Homo sapiens: one gene and its partners. The protein of the gene in region 7 purifies or fractionates together with the protein of the main gene of each other region. This does not show direct contact. Each region holds a gene or a part of one and is shown on either strand. Other genes may lie near its edges.

Region 1 (3,500 bases), on a different chromosome or scaffold from region 7:
GGGACTACAGCCACGTGCCACCATGTTTGGCTAATTATTTGTATTTTTTGTAGAGATGGGGTTTTGCCATGTTGTCCAGGCTGGTCTTGAACTCCTGAGCGTAGTTTTTTGGTGGACACAGGTGGATTGCTTGAGCGATCTGCCTGCCCTGACCTTCCAAAGTACTAGGATTACAGGTGTCAGCTACCACACCTGGCTTCATGTCTTGCTTTCTTTTTTGCTTTTCAGTTCCTTGCTCCATTTCTCTCTTTCCTCTCATATTTTACTGTAAGTAACAAGGAGAAACCAGGATGTCTCTTCCGCACTTTGCTTGGAAATCTCCTCAGCTAAATATCCGAGTTCATCCCTTACAAATTCTACTTTTCTCCCAACAGTAGACCGTAACTTAGCCAAGTTCTCTGTCACTTTATAACAAGTAACATCTTTTCTCAACTCTGTCTGAGACATCACCAGAGGAAACATTCATATTTCTGGCAAAATCCATCCATGACAACATATGTATTCTGTAAATAATAGAAGTTTTCTTTACAGCTCTCATCTCTTCTGAGTCTTCATCACAATTGCCTTTCATGTCCCTATTTCTACCAATGATCTCTTCAAGGCAATCTGGGCTTTTTCTGTCAAGCACTTCAAAACTCTTTCAGTCTCTACTCATTACCCAATTCCAAAGCCACTTTCATATTTTCAGGTGTTTGTTGTAGCAGCAACCCACTTTCTGGTGCTATAATCTGTATTAGTTTCCTAGGGCAGCTGTAACAAATTGCCACAAATTGTGTGGCCTAAAAAAATAGAAATTATTCTCTCACAATTCGGTAAGCTGGAAGTCCAAAATTCAGGTGTTGGCAGGTTTGGTTCCTTCTGGAGATTCTGAAGCAGAATCTGTTCTTTGCCTCTCTCCTAGTTTCTGATGGCTACTGGCAGTCCTTGACACTCCTTGACTTCTACACATATCACTCTAATCTTTGCCTCCATCTTTACGTGGTGTTCTCTCCTGTGTTTTCTGTGTCCAAATATCCATTGTCCTATAAAGACATCAGTCCATTGGTCTTAGGGTCTAACCCTAATCCGCTATGACCTCATTTTAACTTGATTCCATCTGCAAAGACACTTTTTCCAAATAAGAGACTGGGGCTCAATATATCTTTCTGGAGGCTATAATTCTATCTGCTACAGATAGTCAATACTTTCTCCTGAAAGATAAAAATTATAAAACTATACAAACAAAACAAAACAAAAATGACAATAATGGCCAACTATTGTATATCAATCTAACCCAGGGTCCCTATATTTTAACTGAACTCAAATTTTTTATTATGAGATTTTTATCAGACTGTCTTTATGACAAAATCTTATTTAAATCCACATGCAAAAAAATGATGCTGGGCTCTTATATCATTTGTAAAAATTAACTCAAAATGAAACAAAGACCTGAATATATGAGCTAAAACTATAAAACTCTTATTAGAAAACATAGGGGAAAAGCTTTATGACATTGCAGTTAACAATAATTTCTTGGATATGACACCACAAGTATAGGCATCAAAGGAAAAAAAAAATTGGACTTCATTTAAATTGAAAACTTCTGTACATCAAAAACTGTTGAAAAGGCAACCCACACAATGGGAGAAAATATTTGCAAATCACGTATACACTAAGGTATTAATCTCCAGAATATGTAAAGAACTTCTACAACAACAATTTAAAACAATCTGATTAAAAAATGAACAAAGGATTTGAATAAGCATGTCTCCAAAGAAGATACACAAATCGTCAATAAACAAATGAAAAGATGCTCAACATCACTAACCATTAAGGAAATGCAAATCAGAACCACGAGATACCGCTCTATTCCCATTATGACGGCTCTTATAAAAAATAAAAAAATTACAAGTGTTGGCAAGGATATGGAGCAACTGGAACCCTCGTGCATTGCTGGTAGAAATGTAAAATGGTGTAGCACCTACGGAAAAACCACATGGCTATTCCTCAAAAAATTAAACACAGAATTATCATATGATCCAGTAATTCCACTTCTGGGTATATACCCAAAAGAACTGAAAGCAAGCACCCGAACAGATATATTTGTATACTCATGTTCATAGCAGCATTATTCACAACAGCCAAAAGGTAGAAACAAATCAAATGTCCATTGACAGAGGAATGGCTAAACAAAAATGTGGTACATACATACAATGAAATGTTATTCAGCCTTAAAAAAGGATGAAATTCTGACACATGCTACACAATATGGATGAACCTTGAGGTAAAGTAAACCTTAAGGCTAAGTGAAATCAGTCACAAAAGGACAAACATTGTGTGATTCCACTATATGAGGTATCTAGAGTAATCGAATTCATAGTGACAGAAAGCAGAATGACAAATAATGGTGATAGTTACACAACATTGTGAATGTACTAATGCCACAGAACTGTCTACTTAAAAATAGTTAAAATGGGAAATTTGATGTATGTATCTTTTACTACAAAAAAAAGTAATGGGCTTCTATGCAAATTATGAGAATGACAGAAATTTACCACTGAACTTGATTTTATCAATGTTTACGACCTCAGGTCAATAAAGTATCTTTGAGGCCGGGTGCGGTGGCTCATGCCTGTAATCCCAGCACTTTGGGAGGCTGAGGCAGGTGGATCACTCAAGGTCAGGAGTTCGAGAGCAGCCTGGCCAACACGGTGAAACCCCATCTCTACTAAAACTACAAAAAATTGGCCAGGTGTGGTGGCACACTCCTATAATCCCAGCTACTCAGGAGGCTGAGACAGAAGAATCGCTTGAACCCAGGAGGTGGGTGCAGTAAGCAAAGATCGTGCCATTGCACTCCAGCCTGGGCAACAGAGTCAGACTTCATCTCAAAAAAAATAAATAAATAAATAAATAAAGTATCTTTGAATGTTTTCTGTTTCACTAAATAACATCTTTACAAAACAAATAAATATATTACCTCTTGAATTTCTTTTTCTAATAGCTCCACTCTTTCTCGAAGATGTCTCCTCTCAGTGTCAATAGAAAGAAGTTCCAGTCGAACTGAGCTGCTTTCTCCCTCAGCTTGATGGGCTTTGACCTCCCAGTCTTCAGCACGGTTATGAAGCATCTGAAATCTATCTAACAAATCTTGATTTTCTTTTTCCTGGTTTAATCACAATAAAATTGTTTCTAAATTAGTAATTGTCACTTCCTGGAACACCTATGTCATAAACACATACACATACACAGCATTCTGTTCTAATTTAGGAAGCATTAGATATCTGTGCAGGTACCACACTAAAATCTATGGGAAAAATAGAAAAAGGCAGTAGACAAGATCTCTACTTTAAAATGTTTAATATCTAATTGTAGAGGCACATGAAAAAGTTAAAAAAAAAAAAAACCTCAGTCTTAAATCCAACCTAAATAATATTTTTCACCTTGGCAGCCATTAAGCTCTCCCATCGTGACACCTCTGTTATGTATTTATGAACTCTGCTCTTCATTTCTTCTTTTTC
Region 2 (3,500 bases), on a different chromosome or scaffold from region 7:
TTCGAGACAGGGTCTCTCTCTGTCGCCCAGGCTAGAGTGCAGTGGTGCGATCATGGCTTACTGCAGTCTCGACTTTCCAGGCTCAACTGATCCTCCCACCTCAGCCCCCAAGTAGCTGAGACTACAAGCGCATGCCACCACACCCAGCTAATTTTTATATTTTTTGTAGCAATGGGGTTTCAGCATGTTGCCCAGGCTAGTCTCAAACTCCTGGGCTCAAGCGATCCTTCTGCCTCAGCCTCCCAAAGTGCTGACATTACAGGCGTGAGCCACCGCACCCTGCCAGTACTATTAATAATACACATGTAATCAATATCCAAAGCTTTCATAAAGCTAAAATAATATACAAAAAGCATCTAAATAAAGTTTAACAGAGATATGCAAGTACACATTTAGGCTTTAAAAATTGTATTTCACTAGTTTAAGGTGAAGAAGAAGTGGCTTGTCAGCAGTTCATATGAGAAATAAAGCTTCAGTGCAAATAAGTTTAACAAAAACCAAAAGAACAACAAGGTAGCTATAAAAACTAAGGCAATTTTAGGTCACAGATAGAAAAGAATGCATCCAAAACAAGTATCCTAAGAGTAGTGAAGTGTCTGGAAATCATGGAGCAAACTGAAAGAACTGGAGGTATTTAACATGGAGACGAGAAAAGGGAAACATCACGGCAGTCTGAATATCTGAGATACTGTCATGGGAATAAAAGTGGACACATATGTCCTCTACTGGTATTCCTCAAACCATCTGTGGTAAAGGGCCACCTTTCCTTCCCCAACCACTGGACACTTCTGTAAAAATATAGTAAGAATACCATGACCACTGAAAATTCCTATAAACTTTTTTTTTTTTTTTTTTTTTAGGACGAAGTCTCGCTCTTGTCCTCCAGGCTGGAGTGCAATGGCACAATCTCGGCTCACTGCAACCTCCACCTCCCAGGGTCAAGTGATTCTCCTGCCTCAGTCCCCCACAAGTAGCTGGGATTACCGGGGCCTGCCACCATGCCCGGCTAATTTTTGCATTTTTAGTAGAGACGGGGTTTCACCATGTTGGCCAGGCTGGTCTCAAACTCCTGACCTCAGATGATCCACCCACCTTGGCCTCCCAAAGTGCTGGGATTACAGGTGTGAGCCACCATTTCCAGCCTGAAAATTCCTATAATAATTTCTAAATGCTCACTCTCACTTTCTGTGTTTCATTAAATTGTGAACAGGTTACAAGTTCATAGATTTCCTACTTCAAGTACCTGTATTCCATCCATACCAGAAAAAAGAACCAAATCAAAGGGAATCATTTTGTGGGAAGTTAAATTTCCACCTGATGTAACAAAGAATTCCTAGCCCATAGTGTTTCCAACAGTGCAATGGCACCGAGAGAACTGAGCTCCTTTGGGAAGTATTCAGAGGAAAAATAATTTTATCTGTTAGATAATCTAAAAAATGTATTCCTACTTTGGAAAGGTGAATGGATTGGATTAAAACATCGTAGAATCTCTCCACTCTCCAAGATTCTGAGTCCAATCAAAAGCAAATACACACACATACACCCTCAAAGTAGCCAAGAACTAATCAATCATTAGCATACTATTAGCATACTCACAAATCAGTTATGATGTATTAGGTAGGATGTACGAGCAAAGGACTATGAAATTGACAAAGCATATGGAAATCATAATTAAGCCCTAAGTAAGTGAGAAGTATGAATAAAGCACCACCATAATCCTTTTTAGTCCATTACTGATGGTACAAGTACACTCTCAGGTTGCCTCTTCAAAGTTTAAACCAGTCCTCGCAAATCAAAACACAAAACAAGGATAAGCCTTTTCCTTTTTCCTAAAAGAACTATTGATAACACCTTTGCCGTCTTAAATTCTCACCTCTGAGTGACCTTCAGCCACAAAGATTTAACCACAGTCTCTACCTTGACCCTGCCCTAACTGTACTACTGGCATACACTACTCCTGTTCAATCTTCTGGTCAATCATCTTCTAGTGGTAACTACTTAAACCACTCCTCCCCTACCACAGACTTATGAAACTAGAAAAGGATCTCCTCCTATACAAATTTCTGATCAACAGTAATTTCAGATTCTCAACCATGCAATATAAATAGTTGTAGAAATATTAAAATAGTTTAATACTCAGCCACGTGCTATGGCTATTACCTCTTTGCTACACTCCCTCAGCCCCCCTCCAAATCCATCCTCCATAGAAATTGACCTAATGCCTAGCAACTCCATCAACTTCTAGCTTCTTGTTGCTCCTCAGGTACAAATACTACACAGTAGTCTACCATACCTTTTAACAACCAAAATTGGCCCCAAAGTCAGGTCTTTTCACCAATTACCACAGGCACAGTACATTCCTCCTTTAGAATTTTAAATGAATGCCCCCAGGAAGAAGACTCCTACAAATGAGTTTTGTAGTTGCATTTAAGAAATTTTTTCACAGCTAATTTTGTGCATTATTTCCCAAAACTCTAATCTGAAATACCACTGGTAATTAATGACTCATTTTCTTAAGAAGAGCAACAGTGACATAAAGAACTTAAAATACAAAACAATGAAAGCAAACCTGTTATAGAGAGAACGTTAAAGCACACAGAAAAATATTAGCAGGTAAGTTTAAGTGACAGAAAAGGAAATTTTACCCCTTGATTATTAAGGAGTATTTAAAATCACAGGAAGAATACACATCCACAAAGCAAAAATCACCATCTACTTGGCAGATTTTTTTAAAATCAGAAACAAAATCTATCGTAGACTCACATTAAAACATGAGTACTCAGACTGTTCTACTTTGAAATTTTCCTGGAATGTTAAGAAATCACCTGTAAGGAGCCCTTTTCCATAAGTTCTTTCAGTGGCATGAAGACTTTAAACATTTTTAAGTATGAGCTCCAAAATAAATTCTCAACTCTGAGAAACATTTGAAAATCACCTGTTTTGTCTCTCAGTATTCTGGAGCTCCCTGTGGTCCCTTTTCAGGTGTTTGGTCAAAGACGTAAAGTACTCTTTTAAAAGATTCTGGAAGGGCTGTTGTTTCTCTGGACTAATTATCTCACTAGGAGGAAAACTCAAATTAAACTTCTCTGCAGCACTCTTTACTTTCCTTGGTACAAGTCCAGCAATATCATCTCCACAATGTCGACAGAAACTAATCACTACAGAGACATGAGTGTGGGACTCCCGATCAGCATTAATAATATTTTTTAGCTGTTCATAGATTAAGGAAAGACCTTCCTTGTCAGTGAAAATCCCAACTATTGTCAATTCTGCAATAAAACGCAAATCAGTTCTTAACTTGGTGATGTTAGGTGTTTTCTCCTCTTTCCTTGCTTCAAAATGTTTTTTCCAGACCTGAAGAAGTGATGGGGCAAAGTCAGCATAACGCTGGTGAAAGAGAGAGCAGAGGTGCACAGCACAGTTCACATCAGAGATTTTTAGTTTTGCTTCCACGATGGAAGCTACAGCTTCTGCAATGTATTTGCTTAAATTTAGGCCAT
Region 3 (3,500 bases), on a different chromosome or scaffold from region 7:
TCTTCTTAAATTCTATCAATTAATATACACATTATTGGTAATTTCATATCCAGTGGATGATTCTGTCAACACTTAGGCCTCCCAATTCCATGAAGTCTTTTCCTCTAATGATCTCATCTCCTACCCTCTCTTGGCCAGATCCCTAGACCTTGTCATTTCCAACTACTTCAATTTCCTAATTTCAAGCATGTCATTCTCTGATCACCACTTCCTAACACTCTAATGTGAGCAATCCTTGATCCAGTGGGACCTACAATGAACTGATCTACCTCTGTTTCCAGCACCTCCTCCTACACCCCCAATTAAAGCTCATGGTCATTCAGTCGTTGCTGTTGTCCTCATATATGCCCTCAACCTTTAGCAAAATCTTTACTCTCTACCTACTCCTCACCTGTAACCATCCAGGTGAGAGAGACTAGGAAAAAAATCCCATGATCACAATGACTGATTTCACTTTAAATCACTATCAGATAGGTACTTTGGAGGACACTTAATGCATCCCTGAATTAATTGCAGTTCCCTAATTCTTTCACCTTCCTAGCTTATTTCTTACTTTTCCACAAACCTGTAACACCTGTTTCAAATGATGTCCTTGCTCCTTATCTTTCTGAGATAACTGAAGCATACAGAAGATAATTCCCCCCAGCTCCCAAATTTGCCTGTCCTCCCTTTTTTATGATTGAACTGTCCAAGAGCCAATTTGAGCTATCAGTTTCTCCTTCTCTGGTACATCATCCCATCAGCCTGCAAACTTACCATTACTTTTCCCACTTAAAAAAAAGCAATTTCTTTCTCCAGCTACAACCCCATTTTTCTGTTCTTTCAAGCAAAATTCTTTAAATAAAAAAAAGGAAAAAAAAAAAAAAAGCAAGCCTGTAATGGCCACCTATAAATCCTCTCTTTTCATTCCCTTCCATACACTGAAATCTGTAAGCATTTTACTCCTGGCACTCTACCACAACCGTTCTGGAAGTCACCAAAGACTTCCACAGTGTCAAATCCAGGGGTCAATTAAATTCTCAGTCCTCACATATCTGTCCTATCAATGATATGACACACTTCTGCATTTGGCTTCCAGGATATCATTGCTCCCTGCTCCTCCAATCTCCTAAGACACTCTCCTTCACTCATTCCTCTGCAGCCTCAAAGGCTTCCTTAATGACTTCAAACATGCTAGGCACTCCTACTTCAGGACTTCTACACTAGCTGTCCCTCATCCCCTCTGTCTGGTATGTTTTTCCTATAGATGTCTGAATGGCTTAAAGTACCATGCAACATTCATTTGAATGTTCTGAGTGATCAAAGTGAAATGGCTACAACCGGAACACAATGAAGAGGTACAGAAAACAAAACTCAAACATCCCAAGGAAATGCGTGTTTTGGAACTTTTGGGGAGACAGCATGGTGCAGCCACATTCCATGATTGGCTCCAGTGGTGATCCAGGAAGTGCCTATGAGTAAGACTTGTATATTTCTCATCACTGCTCTTTCAACTTCTAGCACAGCACCTGACATGTAATAAATATTCAAGTATCTGATGATTGAGTATTGTATCATAAGGTGCTTCCATTTTCCTCGGTTAAATGAGCTGTATTTACACTCAATTTCTGTTCGCTAATGTAAAAAAGATTAGGTAAGTCTACAGTAACACTTTATGCTCCTTGTTAGTAATTGTCAGAAGCAGATTATCAATACAAACTATAACAAATATGTTAAAAAATCTCACTCTAACATACCAAAATATACGTACTTACACAGCGTAGGATTGAAATTAAATTTCAGCTATACGCATATTTAAGTTTTTGAAATGTCATGAAAAAAAGATAATCTTAGTTTTAATCCAAAACCAATGGCTTTAAGACAAAGACTGTAAAGGAAAAAAAAAATTAGGTATAAGGAACAAAGAAGAGGCACATGGAACTTCTGAATTAGGATCCTTTCTGGATACTAACTATATCAATTAGCAAAGTTATTTTTTTCTGTGCCTTTGGCTTTATGTTGCCAATCTCTTATTTCTGTAAGAGAAATATTAATTACTATACACTATGCAAATGCAAAGATCAGTATCAGGCACATAATTAGCTCCCAATACCATAAATCACCTCAAACAGACAGAAAAGCAATAGAAAATACAAGATAAAAGACATGTTGGCTAATACTTACACCAGGCAGCTGAGGTCTGCCAGATCATCGATGAAATCAAACAACTGACTGATGTCATATGTGATAGAGGGACTGTTGGGATTCATTCTTTTCAGATGTTCTTCATACATTTTACAAACACCTAAGAAAGGATAGGAAAAAAAGCAAAATCTTACAATCGCATACACTTCTAGATATGAGCAGTGCTTATGAGCTGTGCTATATGTTGATATCATATTTACTTTAATAAAGTTGGGCTGGGGAAAAGATGATAGATTGATGGCTTTTGATTATTGCCACTAGCAAATACTTTTTTATTTTATAAATTCACCAGGTCAGGTGTAGTGGCTTACGCCTGTAATCCCAGCTCTTTGGGAGGCTGAGGCAGGAGCATCACTTGAGCCCCACAGTTTAAGACCAGCCTGCCTGGGCAACACAGGGAGACCTCATCTCTACAAAAATTAAAAAATTAGCCAGGCGTGATGGCGTGTGCTTGTGGTCCCAGCTACCTGGGAAGCTGAGGTGGGAGAATCACTTGGCTGCAGTGAGCCGTGATTGCATCACTGCACTCCAGTCTGGGCAGCTGAGAAATTCACCACAATGTTGATGTAACTATTTTGTGTCTTAATAATAAAATGATTACTTCAAACCACTGGAGCTAAGGGGCTTTAAAGACTTGCCATCTGATGGCTCAAACAAATAACACTGTGGGTCTTAACAGGTTTTTCAGTAATTCTTCCTAAAGCCACAGAGCAAAAAAAAAAAAAAAATTGGCAACAAGGAAAGAGATTATCCTAATGTATATTTAAGATCCTAGACTAGGCCGGGCACAGTGGCTCACGCCTGTAATCCCAGCACTTTGGGAGGCCAAGGCGGGCGGATCACGAGGTCAGGAGATAGAGACCATCCTGGCCAACACAGTGAAACCCTGTCTCTACTAAAAAAATACAAAAAATTAGCCAGGCATGGTGGCAGGCACCTGTAGCCCCAGCTACTCGGGAGGCTGAAGCAGGAGAATGGCATGAACCTGGGAGGTGGAGATTGCAGTGAGCCGAGATCGGCCACTGCACTCCAGCCCGGGTGACAGAGCAAGACTCTGTCTCAAACAAACAAACAAACAAAAAATCCTAGACTATGGATTCAGACAGACTTTAGTTCCAACTCTGCCCCTGTCAAACCGAGGACAAACGACGCCATTCCCTGAACCACACCTGTCAAACAGAGTTAAGAGTGCCTCTTCATAGAATTGTGAGGTTTATTTGAAATAATACACATAAAGCATTAGCACATGAACAAGGATATAAGTACTTAAATATAATAAAAAAGATAATGAGCAAAATCATTAATAGCAAGCCCAC
Region 4 (2,901 bases), on a different chromosome or scaffold from region 7:
ACTTGTTTTAAAAATATTTAATTCCGATTTGGAACCTTAGATGTCTATTTGATTTTTTAAAAAACCTTAATGTAAGATATGACCAGTTAAAACAAAGCAATTCTTGAATTATATAACTGTAAAAGTGTGCAGTTAACAAGGCTGGATGTGAATTTTATTCTGAGGGTGATTTGTGATCAAGTTTAATCACAAATCTCTTAATATTTATAAACTACCTGATGCCAGGAGCTTAGGGCTTTGCATTGTGTCTAATACATTGATCCCAGTGTTACGGGATTCTCTTGATTCCTGGCACCAAAATCAGATTGTTTTCACAGTTATGATTCCCAGTGGGAGAAAAATGCCTCAATATATTTGTAACCTTAAGAAGAGTATTTTTTTGTTAATACTAAGATGTTCAAACTTAGACATGATTAGGTCATACATTCTCAGGGGTTCAAATTTCCTTCTACCATTCAAATGTTTTATCAACAGCAAACTTCAGCCGTTTCACTTTTTGTTGGAGAAAAATAGTAGATTTTAATTTGACTCACAGTTTGAAGCATTCTGTGATCCCCTGGTTACTGAGTTAAAAAATAAAAAAGTACGAGTTAGACATATGAAATGGTTATGAACGCTTTTGTGCTGCTGATTTTTAATGCTGTAAAGTTTTCCTGTGTTTAGCTTGTTGAAATGTTTTGCATCTGTCAATTAAGGAAAAAAAAAATCACTCTATGTTGCCCCACTTTAGAGCCCTGTGTGCCACCCTGTGTTCCTGTGATTGCAATGTGAGACCGAATGTAATATGGAAAACCTACCAGTGGGGTGTGGTTGTGCCCTGAGCACGTGTGTAAAGGACTGGGGAGGCGTGTCTTGAAAAAGCAACTGCAGAAATTCCTTATGATGATTGTGTGCAAGTTAGTTAACATGAACCTTCATTTGTAAATTTTTTAAAATTTCTTTTATAATATGCTTTCCGCAGTCCTAACTATGCTGCGTTTTATAATAGCTTTTTCCCTTCTGTTCTGTTCATGTAGCACAGATAAGCATTGCACTTGGTACCATGCTTTACCTCATTTCAAGAAAATATGCTTAACAGAGAGGAAAAAAATGTGGTTTGGCCTTGCTGCTGTTTTGATTTATGGAATTTGAAAAAGATAATTATAATGCCTGCAATGTGTCATATACTCGCACAACTTAAATAGGTCATTTTTGTCTGTGGCATTTTTACTGTTTGTGAAAGTATGAAACAGATTTGTTAACTGAACTCTTAATTATGTTTTTAAAATGTTTGTTATATTTCTTTTCTTTTTTCTTTTATATTACGTGAAGTGATGAAATTTAGAATGACCTCTAACACTCCTGTAATTGTCTTTTAAAATACTGATATTTTTATTTGTTAATAATACTTTGCCCTCAGAAAGATTCTGATACCCTGCCTTGACAACATGAAACTTGAGGCTGCTTTGGTTCATGAATCCAGGTGTTCCCCCGGCAGTCGGCTTCTTCAGTCGCTCCCTGGAGGCAGGTGGGCACTGCAGAGGATCACTGGAATCCAGATCGAGCGCAGTTCATGCACAAGGCCCCGTTGATTTAAAATATTGGATCTTGCTCTGTTAGGGTGTCTAATCCCTTTACACAAGATTGAAGCCACCAAACTGAGACCTTGATACCTTTTTTTAACTGCATCTGAAATTATGTTAAGAGTCTTTAACCCATTTGCATTATCTGCAGAAGAGAAACTCATGTCATGTTTATTACCTATATGGTTGTTTTAATTACATTTGAATAATTATATTTTTCCAACCACTGATTACTTTTCAGGAATTTAATTATTTCCAGATAAATTTCTTTATTTTATATTGTACATGAAAAGTTTTAAAGATATGTTTAAGACCAAGACTATTAAAATGATTTTTAAAGTTGTTGGAGACGCCAATAGCAATATCTAGGAAATTTGCATTGAGACCATTGTATTTTCCACTAGCAGTGAAAATGATTTTTCACAACTAACTTGTAAATATATTTTAATCATTACTTCTTTTTTTCTAGTCCATTTTTATTTGGACATCAACCACAGACAATTTAAATTTTATAGATGCACTAAGAATTCACTGCAGCAGCAGGTTACATAGCAAAAATGCAAAGGTGAACAGGAAGTAAATTTCTGGCTTTTCTGCTGTAAATAGTGAAGGAAAATTACTAAAATCAAGTAAAACTAATGCATATTATTTGATTGACAATAAAATATTTACCATCACATGCTGCAGCTGTTTTTTAAGGAACATGATGTCATTCATTCATACAGTAATCATGCTGCAGAAATTTGCAGTCTGCACCTTATGGATCACAATTACCTTTAGTTGTTTTTTTTGTAATAATTGTAGCCAAGTAAATCTCCAATAAAGTTATCGTCTGTTCACTTTGTGTCCTTTCATCTTTTTTCAATTCAAGTGGGTAATAACGTTTAAATAGTGGTAGCAGAAATGATCTTTATAATGTTTCAATTCCATGGTGAATCATATGAAAATGCATATTTTAATATAAAATTTTGTTTACCAAGTTCTGCTTCATGTCCACCTGTAGAATTATATAGTAACAACTGTCTTTTTTGAAGACTTAATTCCAATCTGCTTTTTGGAAATTCTGTCACATTGATTGATGCATTCTAGGTCTTGGATTATTTAGATGATGTGTTTGACACATTCTTGAGGTGAACTTGGCTTTTCTAAAAGCAGGTGGACAGAATGTTCAGCTTCCAGGTTTTTAGGACACATTTCCAATATTGTTGATTAAGAAATAATTCTATCATTTTAGCCTTTTGACCCAACTTTTTTTGTAACTCAGTAAACCAAGCACTAATATGAATCATTTGGTTGTAGAAACAAGATGGTAAGAAGTTTTTTAGAATGAGAAAAAAGT
Region 5 (3,500 bases), on a different chromosome or scaffold from region 7:
GGAAAGAATACTAAAAATGAATTCCCTATAATGGGATCCAGTATTTCATAGTAAATATTGTGTGGGTGTGTATGTGGGAGGAAATCTGGAAGCTTTATTTCTAAAGTAAAACTTTAATATTATAAAAATAAGTATTTTATAATTGCACCTGTGCATTAATTATTTACATAAACAAAAATGGAATCAGACGTTGATTGGTTTTTGACAGCATAATTTCCCCCAATAAATAGTATAATAAAATTATAGATGTGCTCATTTCATGTTTGACTTTCACTGTGCCATTATAATAGAGGCCATTTTTAAAAGATTAATAATGACCTCAGTTTTTCTTAAAGCCGCTCAGATGACAAATTATTCTCTTTGTATCACGTATTATGCCATCATCCTGGCCACTTGTTAGTTGGTCTGACCCTTATTTGTTCACAGACTCACTTGTAACTCAGGCAATTCTCCAGTTTCTTTCATTGAGTTGAGCTTCTGTATAGTTGGCAAGTTTTCCAGTTCATCTTTGCATTGGGTCTGCAGTGTGCTATCTGAAGTATCAGACGGTCAGTAAGAGAAACCAGCTGGCAGTGAGCAGAAAGATAGGTGTAAAGCAGACAGGGTCTTGAGTGGGAACTCTGTTTATGAAGGGTCAGTTCTTTAGAAATCATTTTCATGTTTAATCACTTTTGCTTTGCTGCTAAGCTTTGTGACTGATCATGAGACCTGATAACACAGATAGTGAGGACTCCACCCCATAATATATTTCATCATCATTCCAGCAACTGTCTTTAATAGGTTCTTTTAAGTATATTTGAACATTAAACAAGTTAAAATCAAATTATATATTGATATTCTTGAAGGCCCTGAGCAAAACATCGATAAGAAATTAGGTGAGTTAGGAGAGTATCATAGCCTCGTGTCTGCACTAGAAACCAGCCAGCAGGAATTTTGCATATACCTGTCAATTAATGGCAAGATTAAATATTAGTGAACCATTTCTGTGATGGACTTCATTTGATTTTAAATATTGCTCTGGAGAATGTTAAACTGAAACCGTTTCCAGATGACTATGAAGATTAGTGCTCAAAGCATCATTTACATGATGCCCTTCCCTTATAGTGATCATTTCATTCACTCTATTTCCTAAAGGCTGCCCTTGGAGCTGGCTTCTCTGACAAGACTCCTGCTCACACTGTCACCATGGCTTGTATCTCTGCCAACCAAGCCATGACCACAGGTATGTTTAAATGGAAACAGACAGTACATGTTAATTATTCTCCTTTGTCTTTTACTTGATTATAAAAATGTACTTTTTTTTTTTTTTTTTTTTTTAACACAGAACCTCACTCTGTCACTCAGGCTGGAGTGCAGTGGTACCATCATAGCTCACTGCAGGCTCAAACTCTTGAGCTCAAGAGATCATCCTGCCTTAGGATCCCAAGTAGCTGGGTCTACAGGTGCTCCACCACACCCAGCTAATTTTTAAATTTTTTGTGGAGACGGGATCTCGCCATGTTGCCCAGGCTGGTCTTAAACCTCTGGCCTCAAGTGATCCTTCTACCTCAGCCTCCAAAGTGCTGGGATTACAGGCGTGAGCCACCATGCTCATCCCAAAAAGTACTCTTAACAGAAGTAAAAGATTAGCACAGATCTCTATACTTGTGTTTTTTAAAAAGTAAGGTCAGGTTTAAAATTTGGGGGTTCTAACCGTAGTTAACCTCTTTTTTTGCTCTCCATACCTGAGGAACATTACCATTGGCGTGGTTCCTCTGTGAATAATGTGGCTGGCTGCAGCAGGGATTATCAACTGGAGGAGTGTATCTCTAGGAAGGTACTTCAGCATCTGAGGCATGAGTAAATAGTTTACAACCTGCCAGGCTTTCAACCTAGGTGCTTCAGATATGATATTTTCCCACAAAGATATGGTCTTCCTTCCTTCACCACTACCATACTTGTAAATCATTGCTTTAGATGGCACAGCTCTTTCCTTCACTTTCTCCTTACATCCTTGTCATTTTTATAAATCACTGAAAACCCCACTAACAAACTTTAGCAAAACTGTGGGATATTTTGTAGCATCAGCTCTTAGTGTGAGGAGGCAAGGAAGCCTGAAAGATTTAGTAATCATGTGCTCATCTAGTAACATCAAGGCCCAGGTGGGCACCCCACCTCATGTGTGGCGGGGAATGATGCCCGTGACTGGGGGCGTTCGCCACTCTAGGCAGCATGTGACCAACTCCTGGTTAGAGAAACAGAATACTGGCCAGTGGCCATAAGGAGAGAGGGGGCCTGCCTTACGTTTCAACAGCTGTAATTTCTCTGCTTTGCAGCAGAAGTTAACATTCTCTTTATAGGATAAAAAATCTTTATTAAAACTAAAGCTGGGAGCATATAAATATGCAAGATGTTCTGGTTTGGAATATGATTTGTTCAAGAGTTGGTCCAATGGATATTCCTAGAAGTTGACGTCCATATGGCAGGAATGAAACTTGTTTTTCTCTAACGTGTTGAATGTGTTTTTAGTCATTTAAGAAAATTACCTTAATTCTTCTGAAAAGTTGAAAACTTTAATTACAGATGTTGTACAAAGCTGATAACTGTCATTCAGCTTTTTAATCAAGAAGCTTAAATTGGAATGGTATGTTATTTTCTGTAAAAGATATTCATGAAGTATAACCTGTGCCCTGTAGGTGTTGGCTTGATTGCTTCTGGCCAGTGTGATGTGATCGTGGCAGGTGGTGTTGAGTTGATGTCCGATGTCCCTATTCGTCACTCAAGGAAAATGAGAAAACTGATGCTTGATCTCAATAAGGCCAAATCTATGGGCCAGCGACTGTCTTTAATCTCTAAATTCCGATTTAATTTCCTAGCACCTGAGGTAAGGCTTGTGTTTGCAGGGCATCCCACTGCAGAGATTTAGAATTAGGTATGGCAGTGTGGACTCTGCTATGCTGTAATAGGTGTAGATTCTGTAGTTACAGGAAAGGGTTAATTACTTGCTCAAGATGGAAAAAAAAGATAGTGGTTAGAAAACTTTAATTTGTGAGCCCTCTTTAGAGATCCTCTTTAGAGATCCTCTGCTTGTCTTGGACTTGATTGATTAATGGTAGACAAATAGATTTTAACTTTTCCAAATAACACAGAACAATCCTAGGTGTTAGCATAACACCGGTTAACAGTGTACCTGCTCCTTGGATATCTCCTTTCCCAGCTCCCTGCGGTTTCTGAGTTCTCCACCAGTGAGACCATGGGCCACTCTGCAGACCGACTGGCCGCTGCCTTTGCTGTTTCTCGGCTGGAACAGGATGAATATGCACTGCGCTCTCACAGTCTAGCCAAGAAGGCACAGGATGAAGGACTCCTTTCTGATGTGGTACCCTTCAAAGTACCAGGTGAAATGAAATGCTTCATGACACTTATTAGGGAGTTCTGAATTGCTCCTAAAACTCAAAAACATCCCGAGTGATTTTTCCATAAGTATGTTGGTTCTGTTTCCAAAGTATTCAGCCTTTATT
Region 6 (3,500 bases), on a different chromosome or scaffold from region 7:
AGGTTTGTTCTTCCTAGCATATTCAGCTATAATCACCTACATTCCCTCCACAAATATTTCCTGTGTGTGCCAGGCCAGTCTCCTCACTGTCCCATGAATAGCCAGTCTTATTTCCACTCTGTGCCTTCATTTAAGTTATTCCCTGTGACAGATATGTCCTCTACTCTCTTCCCCTCTAGCAAATCCCACCCATCCATCAAAGCCCAGTGGCCTTGCTCCTTGATGAAACCTTCCTTGTACTTGGCTGAAACTTCACCCTCGTACTTGCTGATTTCCTCTCTCTGTGAACCACAAAGTGGTTCAGCATTTAAGTACTGTACTTGGCCGGGCACGGTGGCTCATGCCTGTAATTCCAGCACTTTGGAAGGCCGAGACGAGTGGATGGTTTGAGTTCAGGAGTTCGAGACCAGCCTGAGTAACGTGGCAAAACCCCGTCTCTAAGAAAAATAACAAAAATCAGCCAGTTGTCGTGGCACATGCCTGTAGTCCCAGCTACTAAGGAGGCTGACCTGGAGAATTGCTTGAACCTGGGAGGCAGAGGTTGCAGTGAGCCCAGATCGCGCCACTGCACTTCAGCCTGGGTGACAGAGTGAGATCTTGTCTAAAAACAAACAAACAAAAGGACTGTACTTATCTCCAGTTGTTTAATTTGTGCCTAACATTCTCAATTAGAAAAAATTTGAAGACAGCAAACATGACTTACAGTCTTGTATTCCCACAGCATATAAAAAAAGGTATAGAGTTCACTGGGTGAACCAAAGGAAAAACAAAGCTCTTTCTTCATTATTTTGATTGTTCTCTATTCACTATCACAAAGGGGAAGAAATTAACAAACTCTGAGAGAGTCACTTGATCACCTGAGTCCATTTTCTAATCTGTAATACAGGAAGCCTACATTATGAATATTTTGCAAACTGTGATCTGTGAGCCCTTGAGTTCCACAGAGCTCTTTTAGAGGCAGCTGGGAGGATGAGGAGGAAAGAGCTGGGCTAAAGGTACCTCGTCTCTACTTTGTTAGAATACCTTCTAACCTGTTTTACATGTTAGCTTCTGTATCATGTTTCATTTGAGAAAAAGGGGCTCCAGGTTAAATAGAGGTATCATCTAGTACTGGTGTTTTCAAAGGTTCCTACAGTCTCTCAAACATCTGGTCAAGAGGCAGTATAGCACAGTGTTCAAGCACACTGGCTCAGAACTTGACTACTGTTCTGGGGTTGAAACCAGGCTTCACCCCTACAGGTTGTATGACCTCAGGCAATGTATTTAAATTCTCTGGGCTTTCTTGTTAAAGGTATAACAGTAATAAAACCTGCCTCATAGGGTTGCCCTGAGGTTTAATGAGTTAACACATATAAAGTGTTTAGAACATAGTGAGTACACAATAAATGTAAGCTGTTGCTATCATTACTGTTACACTATACTCTCCTTAATAATTAGAACTGAATGCAACTAACACGTACACATTAAATATACCAGCATGCAAGCCATCATCCTCCACAAACTAACACAGGAACAGAAAAAAAACACCACATGTTCTCACCACTAAGTGGGAGTTAAAAAATGAGAACACATGGACACAGGGAGGGGAACAACACACACCAGGGCCTGTTGCGGGTTAGAGGGTGAGGAGAGGGAACTCAGAGGACAGGTCAATAGGTGTAGCAAACCACCATGGCACACGTATCCCTATGTAACAAACCTGCATGTTCTACACATGTATCCCGGAACATAAAGTTAAAAAAAAAAAAAAAAAAAAAAAAATTATATATATATATATACACACACACACACACACACACACATACATACACACATATATATATACACACATATATATACACATATATATATACACACATATATATACACATATATATATACACACATATATATACACATATATATATACACACACACACACACACACTAGCATGCAAGAAGGTGAGCTCTTCAAAACGTGATTATGTGGAAAAAAAGGAATTATATGTATAGCTCTCCATAAGGGTGGGTTAACAGGTGAGTATTTTCCTTGGTCTCCTATTATAGGTTTACCTACAGCAGGAAGGAACCAGATGGTAGAGTGGTAGGTTCCAAGCTTTTGCCTCTTTTGCAGTGTCGACAAACTAGTGCAACAGTGGAAACAAAATTGGTAAATGCAGAACAGCTCTCAGATCCATAAATTTGATTGTCCTGGATCTCACTGTGATGTATCTAACGATGCATTCTTATGATAAACAAAATGTCTTAACAAAGTGTTCTCTTTCTCCCCAAGCATAACAGAATAATAATGCATTTACTCTACATGCTATAGATGCTTCTAGAATCTGGTAATCCTAAAAGAAAAATATCCCAGTATCTAGTTCTAGCCATCAATCTAGGATCTTACATTTAACATCTTACAAAATATAGGAAGTTCATACATTCTATGCTTGTGGTCTCCATTTCTCTGTATCCCAGTAATAGGGTCTTTTCAGCATCCACGAATTTTTAAGTTACATGACTTTATTCTGGTATTTCAACTTCTGAATCACCTCTAAAAACAACGGACGGAAAAAAAATCTTGGCTTCTTTACAAATTTTTTACATTTACAAAAACTTGCAACTTTCAGCTTTAGTATTGATAATGTTCAGTTGACAATACCTCAATGTTATTTTTATACTTTGTACCTAAAAGTGAATGTTTACTTACTGTTAGTTGCTTGCACGTTTTCCTCTAGTTTACAGAGCACTCTTAATTCAGACACCAGCCAAGCACAGAGTTTGGTAAACTCGGGGGAACTGGCTCCAGCAGAGACTGCCTGAGAGAGCGCTCCATCTTCCAACAATGGGCCCTTGTAACTGGTGAGCAAGAAATTACATTTCAGAAGAAAATACAATCATACCTAATATATTACAGATAAAACATATCTATGTCTTATTTATATAAGCAATAATTTAATAAAGATAAGTTAGTACTTATCTTTATTTTAAATGGACAAATATAAACATAATTTAGAACTATACTGAACCATTACAAAAAGCAGCTAAATGGTAGCTGCATTTCAACCTTTCAAAATGTAGGTGAATATCTAACAGAATTGCATATACTACTAAATTATGTCAACTTCTGTACATTTACTAAAAGCTTCCATTGTAAAAAGATTTATTTTCTTACTGTAATTGAATTGAGTATTAAAAGCAAATTAACAAGTAATAGCTAATTATACTGTAACTTATTTCAGAAATAAAACTTAGGTTATCTTTTCTAAAAATTTTCCAGAAAACAACTAGATTATGTTTTTATTTTGAGATGAGGTCTTGCACTGTCACATAGGCTGAAGTGCAGTGAAGGCACAAGCCACCAAACCTGGCTTTTTTTTTATTTTTTATAAAATAGCCAGGGGTCTTACTATGTTGCCCAGGCTTAGTTAGGTTTTTAATGACTTCCTTTAAAAGTAAAAACTTTCCAGTTAACCATTTATATCATTTTTATAAATTTAATGCCAGTTAAGACTAGTAAG
Region 7 (3,500 bases):
CTGCACTTCAGCCTGGGCGACAGAGCAAGGCTCTGTCGCAAAAAATAGTAATAATAAAAAAAAGACACTATTTTAAAAATATCACATTAAAAAAAATACACACATACATACATATATATCCACATAGGTATTCCTGGAACATATGCAAGAATTATTAAAAGTGGCAGGCTGGGCGCAGTGGCTTACACCTGTAATCCCAGCACTTTGGGAGGCCGAGGCAGGCGTATCACTTGAGGTCAGGAGTTCGAGACCAGCCTGGCCAACATGGTGAAACTCTGTCTCTACTAAAAATACAAAAATTAGCCGGGAGGCGGAGGTTGCAGTGAGCCAAGTTTGTGCCACTGCACTCCAGCCTGGGTGACAAAAGCAAAACTCCATCTCGAAAAAGCAAAACAAAAAAACAAAAAAACAGCGGCAGCCTCTAATGGGCCCAGAGGATAAGAATGGAAGGGAGACTTACTATACGATACCTAACATATAAGAGGAGCTTAATCTTCCTTGATAATCTCTCTCTCCATGAATTATCTTTTTTTTTTTTTCTGTTTTGAGACAGGGTCTTGCTCTGTTGCCCAGGAGTGCAGTGGCACAATCATGGCTTACTGCAATCTCAATCTCCTGGGCTCAAGTGATCCTCCCACCTCAGCCTCCCAAGTAGCTGCGACTACAGGCACATGCCACCACACCTGGCTGATTTTTTTTTATTTTTAGTAGAGACGAGGTCTCGCTATGTTGCCTAGGCAGTTCTCAAACTGCTGAGCTCAAGCAATCCTCCTCCCTTGGCCTCCCAAAGGGCTGGGATTACAGGCATGAACACTGTACCTGGCCCATGAATTGTCTCTTAAACATGCAGTGCCTAATAACTATACTTTGACGTAAGTTGTGAACTCTCCCATCTCAAAATGGCTTAGAGCAGAAATTCCCAACCTTTTTGATTATGCGGACCCCTTTTTAGGATCTAAAAATTTTCATGGATCCCCATGAGATATTCACTGAGAAAACATACAATGACAAACAACTGCTAGGCTGGATGTAGTGGTTCACGCCTGTAATCCCAACACTCTGGGAGGCCGAGGTAGGTGGATCACTTGAGGTCCGGAGTTTGAGACCAGCCTGGCCAACATGGTGAAACCCTGTCTCTACTAAAAATACAAAAATCAGCCAGACATGGTGGCATGAATTTGTAATCCCAGCTATTTGGGAGGCTGAGGCAAGAGAATTGCTTAAACCCAGGAGGTGGAGGTTGCAGTGAGCCAAGATTGCACCACTGATACTAGTCTGGGCAAAAGAGTGAGACCCTGTCAAAAAAAAAAAAAAAAAAAAAAAAATTCGCCAGGAATGGTGGTGTGCGCCTATAGTCCCAGCAACTTGGGAGGCTGAGGTGTGAGATCATTTCAGCCCAGGAGGTAGAGGTTGCAGTGAGCCATAATTGTGCCACTGCGCTCCAGTCTTAGCAACAGAGAGAGATCCTGTCTCAAAAAAAAAAAAAAAAAAACACACAATGAACTGATGCGTGCGTGCCTGTAGTCCCAGCTACTCAGGAGGCTGAGGCGGGAGAATCACTTTAACCTGGGAGGCAGAGGTTGCAGTGAACCGAGATCGCACCACTGCACTCCAACCTGGACAACAGAGACTGTCTCAAAAACAAACAAAAAACAACAAACTGTTATACATTCAATAACACTTTAAGTTTACATTTTATTAATTTACATATATTCAAAAATAGTAGTACATAAGGGGGGAGATGTATATTTTAGTCTATAGATAATGAGAACTGAATGAGTAGACATGCAACTCTTTTTTGAGACAGGGTCTCACTCTGTCGCCCAGGCTGGAGTGCAGTGGTGTGATCTCAACTGACTATAGCCTTGACTTCCTGGGCTCAAGTAATCCTCCCACCTCAGCCCCCACAAGTAGCTGGGACTACAGATGTACACCACTATGCCCAACTAATTTTTGTATTTTTTGTAGAGACAGAGTTTCACCACATTACCCAGGCTGGTCTGAAACTTCTGAGCTCAAGCGAACCTCCTGCCTCAGCCTCCCAAAGTGCTAGGATTACAGGCATGAGCCACTGCGCCCAACCAGATGTGCAAACTCTTGATAATGACTCCATGATTTCCCAATGCACTTATCCTCAAGCTGGAAAATGGTAGCTTTTTTTAATGCCTATGAGTACTGGTTTTCTGCAGCAGAAAATTCCTGCAGCCAGAACATATCCAGAATCACATAATTACAAAAATTTGACCTAAAAAACCTTAAAGGACAACTTGTACAACCATCACATTTCAGAAATGAAAAAAATTAGTCCAAGTGCTCTCTCTCTCTTTTTACTATCTTCTTCCCTCTTTTACCACATCAAGATTGGGTAACACTGTTCATGACACAGAAAGTGCTGGGTCTACACACAAAGGATCATTAGGCCATTAGAAAGGGCCAGGAAATGGACGTGTGGCTAGTTCTAGGTAGGAAAAGGCAGCAGCTAAGGCTCATGATAAGGGAACTGGCTTTAGAATAGGGTTACTCTCCTCTCCTTGTCCTCCCCAGATTTGGACCTAAGGAGGCAGAGCTATGGCTAGGGAGGCCTACGAGAACACAGAGAAATGGGTTCAAGGAAAGGTGGTCTAGTCTTCATTGGTGGGTTACATCTGAAACCTGGTAGATGTATGTACACTGGTCTCTCACTCACCTACTGGGTCTGATACTTGAACTGAACCAGACTGCCCTGTCACTCAAGACCCAGGCTGGCCCCAATAATCTGGTCAAAGAGGCTCAACATGAGATTCCTGAATTCCTGATTGAGAAACTCTCAAACTCTAAGTTTCTGCCATCTCTTCAAATAGAGCTGAGTCAGCCTGATTGGCCCAGACAAGCCAATTAATCCCTCTTCCTCATTTTTCCCTGCTCAGCATCTGGGTATAGTTGACGCTGGAACAAGGGGTTTGAACTACTCAGGTCCACTTCTACGCAAATTTTTTTTCAATAGAAGTTGCAGCAAGTATGCCTGCCTCTCCTTCCACTGCCTCTGTCACCCAAGGCAGCAAGATCAACCCCTCCTCTTCTGAAGTCTACTCAATGCAAAGATGATGAAGACCTTTATGATGATCCACTTCCACTGAATAGTATGTTTCCTTAATAGTGAATGATTTCTTAATAACATTTTCTTTTCTCTAGCTTCATTGTAAGAGTACAGTACATAATACACATAAAATATAAAATACATATTCACTGACTGTTTATGTTATTGGTATGGCTTCCAGTTGACTTAGTAGTTAAGTTTTGGGTGAGTCAAAAGTTATACTTGGAATTCTTACTGCAACAGGGATAGGTGTCCTTTATATTTTATTTATTATTTATTTATTTTGGAGACAGAGTCTTGCTCTGTCGCCCAGGCTGGAGTGCAATGGCGCGATCTCAGCTCACTGCAACCTCCACCTCCTGGGTTCAAGCAATTCTTATGCCTCAGCCTCCTGAGTAGCAGGGACTACAGGCGTATGCCACCA

The links.
Region 1: the proteins of CASC3 (region 7) and CEP135 purify together in Homo sapiens (co-immunoprecipitation; one large-scale study listed by IntAct). This does not show direct contact.
Region 2: the proteins of CASC3 (region 7) and UPF2 fractionate together in Homo sapiens (co-fractionation; 3 studies listed by BioGRID and IntAct). This does not show direct contact.
Region 3: the proteins of CASC3 (region 7) and ERH purify together in Homo sapiens (co-immunoprecipitation; one large-scale study listed by IntAct). This does not show direct contact.
Region 4: the proteins of CASC3 (region 7) and DICER1 purify together in Homo sapiens (co-immunoprecipitation; one large-scale study listed by IntAct). This does not show direct contact.
Region 5: the proteins of CASC3 (region 7) and HADHB fractionate together in Homo sapiens (co-fractionation; one large-scale study listed by BioGRID). This does not show direct contact.
Region 6: the proteins of CASC3 (region 7) and FAM98A purify together in Homo sapiens (co-immunoprecipitation; one large-scale study listed by IntAct). This does not show direct contact.

What each region holds. Positions count from the first base shown.
Region 1 is NC_000004.12:56,011,445-56,014,944, reverse strand, and holds part of CEP135 (centrosomal protein of 135 kDa), read right to left. Parts: coding exon 3,423-3,500; intron 3,146-3,422; coding exon 2,960-3,145; intron 1-2,959. UniProt on the Homo sapiens protein: Centrosomal microtubule-binding protein involved in centriole biogenesis. Acts as a scaffolding protein during early centriole biogenesis.
Region 2 is NC_000010.11:12,025,810-12,029,309, forward strand, and holds part of UPF2 (regulator of nonsense transcripts 2), read right to left. Parts: coding exon 2,936-3,500; intron 1-2,935. UniProt on the Homo sapiens protein: Involved in nonsense-mediated decay (NMD) of mRNAs containing premature stop codons by associating with the nuclear exon junction complex (EJC).
Region 3 is NC_000014.9:69,384,800-69,388,299, forward strand, and holds part of ERH (enhancer of rudimentary homolog), read right to left. Parts: intron 2,285-3,500; coding exon 2,164-2,284; intron 1,539-2,163; exon of another isoform or gene 1,247-1,538; intron 1-1,246. UniProt on the Homo sapiens protein: May have a role in the cell cycle.
Region 4 is NC_000014.9:95,085,728-95,088,628, reverse strand, and holds the end of DICER1 (endoribonuclease Dicer), read left to right. Parts: 3' UTR 1-2,401; downstream 2,402-2,901. UniProt on the Homo sapiens protein: Double-stranded RNA (dsRNA) endoribonuclease playing a central role in short dsRNA-mediated post-transcriptional gene silencing.
Region 5 is NC_000002.12:26,275,939-26,279,438, forward strand, and holds part of HADHB (trifunctional enzyme subunit beta, mitochondrial isoform 1 precursor), read left to right. Parts: intron 1-1,134; coding exon 1,135-1,222; intron 1,223-2,675; coding exon 2,676-2,863; intron 2,864-3,196; coding exon 3,197-3,377; intron 3,378-3,500. UniProt on the Homo sapiens protein: Mitochondrial trifunctional enzyme catalyzes the last three of the four reactions of the mitochondrial beta-oxidation pathway.
Region 6 is NC_000002.12:33,592,800-33,596,299, forward strand, and holds part of FAM98A (protein FAM98A), read right to left. Parts: intron 2,839-3,500; coding exon 2,690-2,838; intron 1-2,689. UniProt on the Homo sapiens protein: Positively stimulates PRMT1-induced protein arginine methylation. Involved in skeletal homeostasis. Positively regulates lysosome peripheral distribution and ruffled border formation in osteoclasts.
Region 7 is NC_000017.11:40,157,537-40,161,036, reverse strand, and holds part of CASC3 (protein CASC3), read right to left. Parts: intron 1-3,500. UniProt on the Homo sapiens protein: Required for pre-mRNA splicing as component of the spliceosome. Core component of the splicing-dependent multiprotein exon junction complex (EJC) deposited at splice junctions on mRNAs.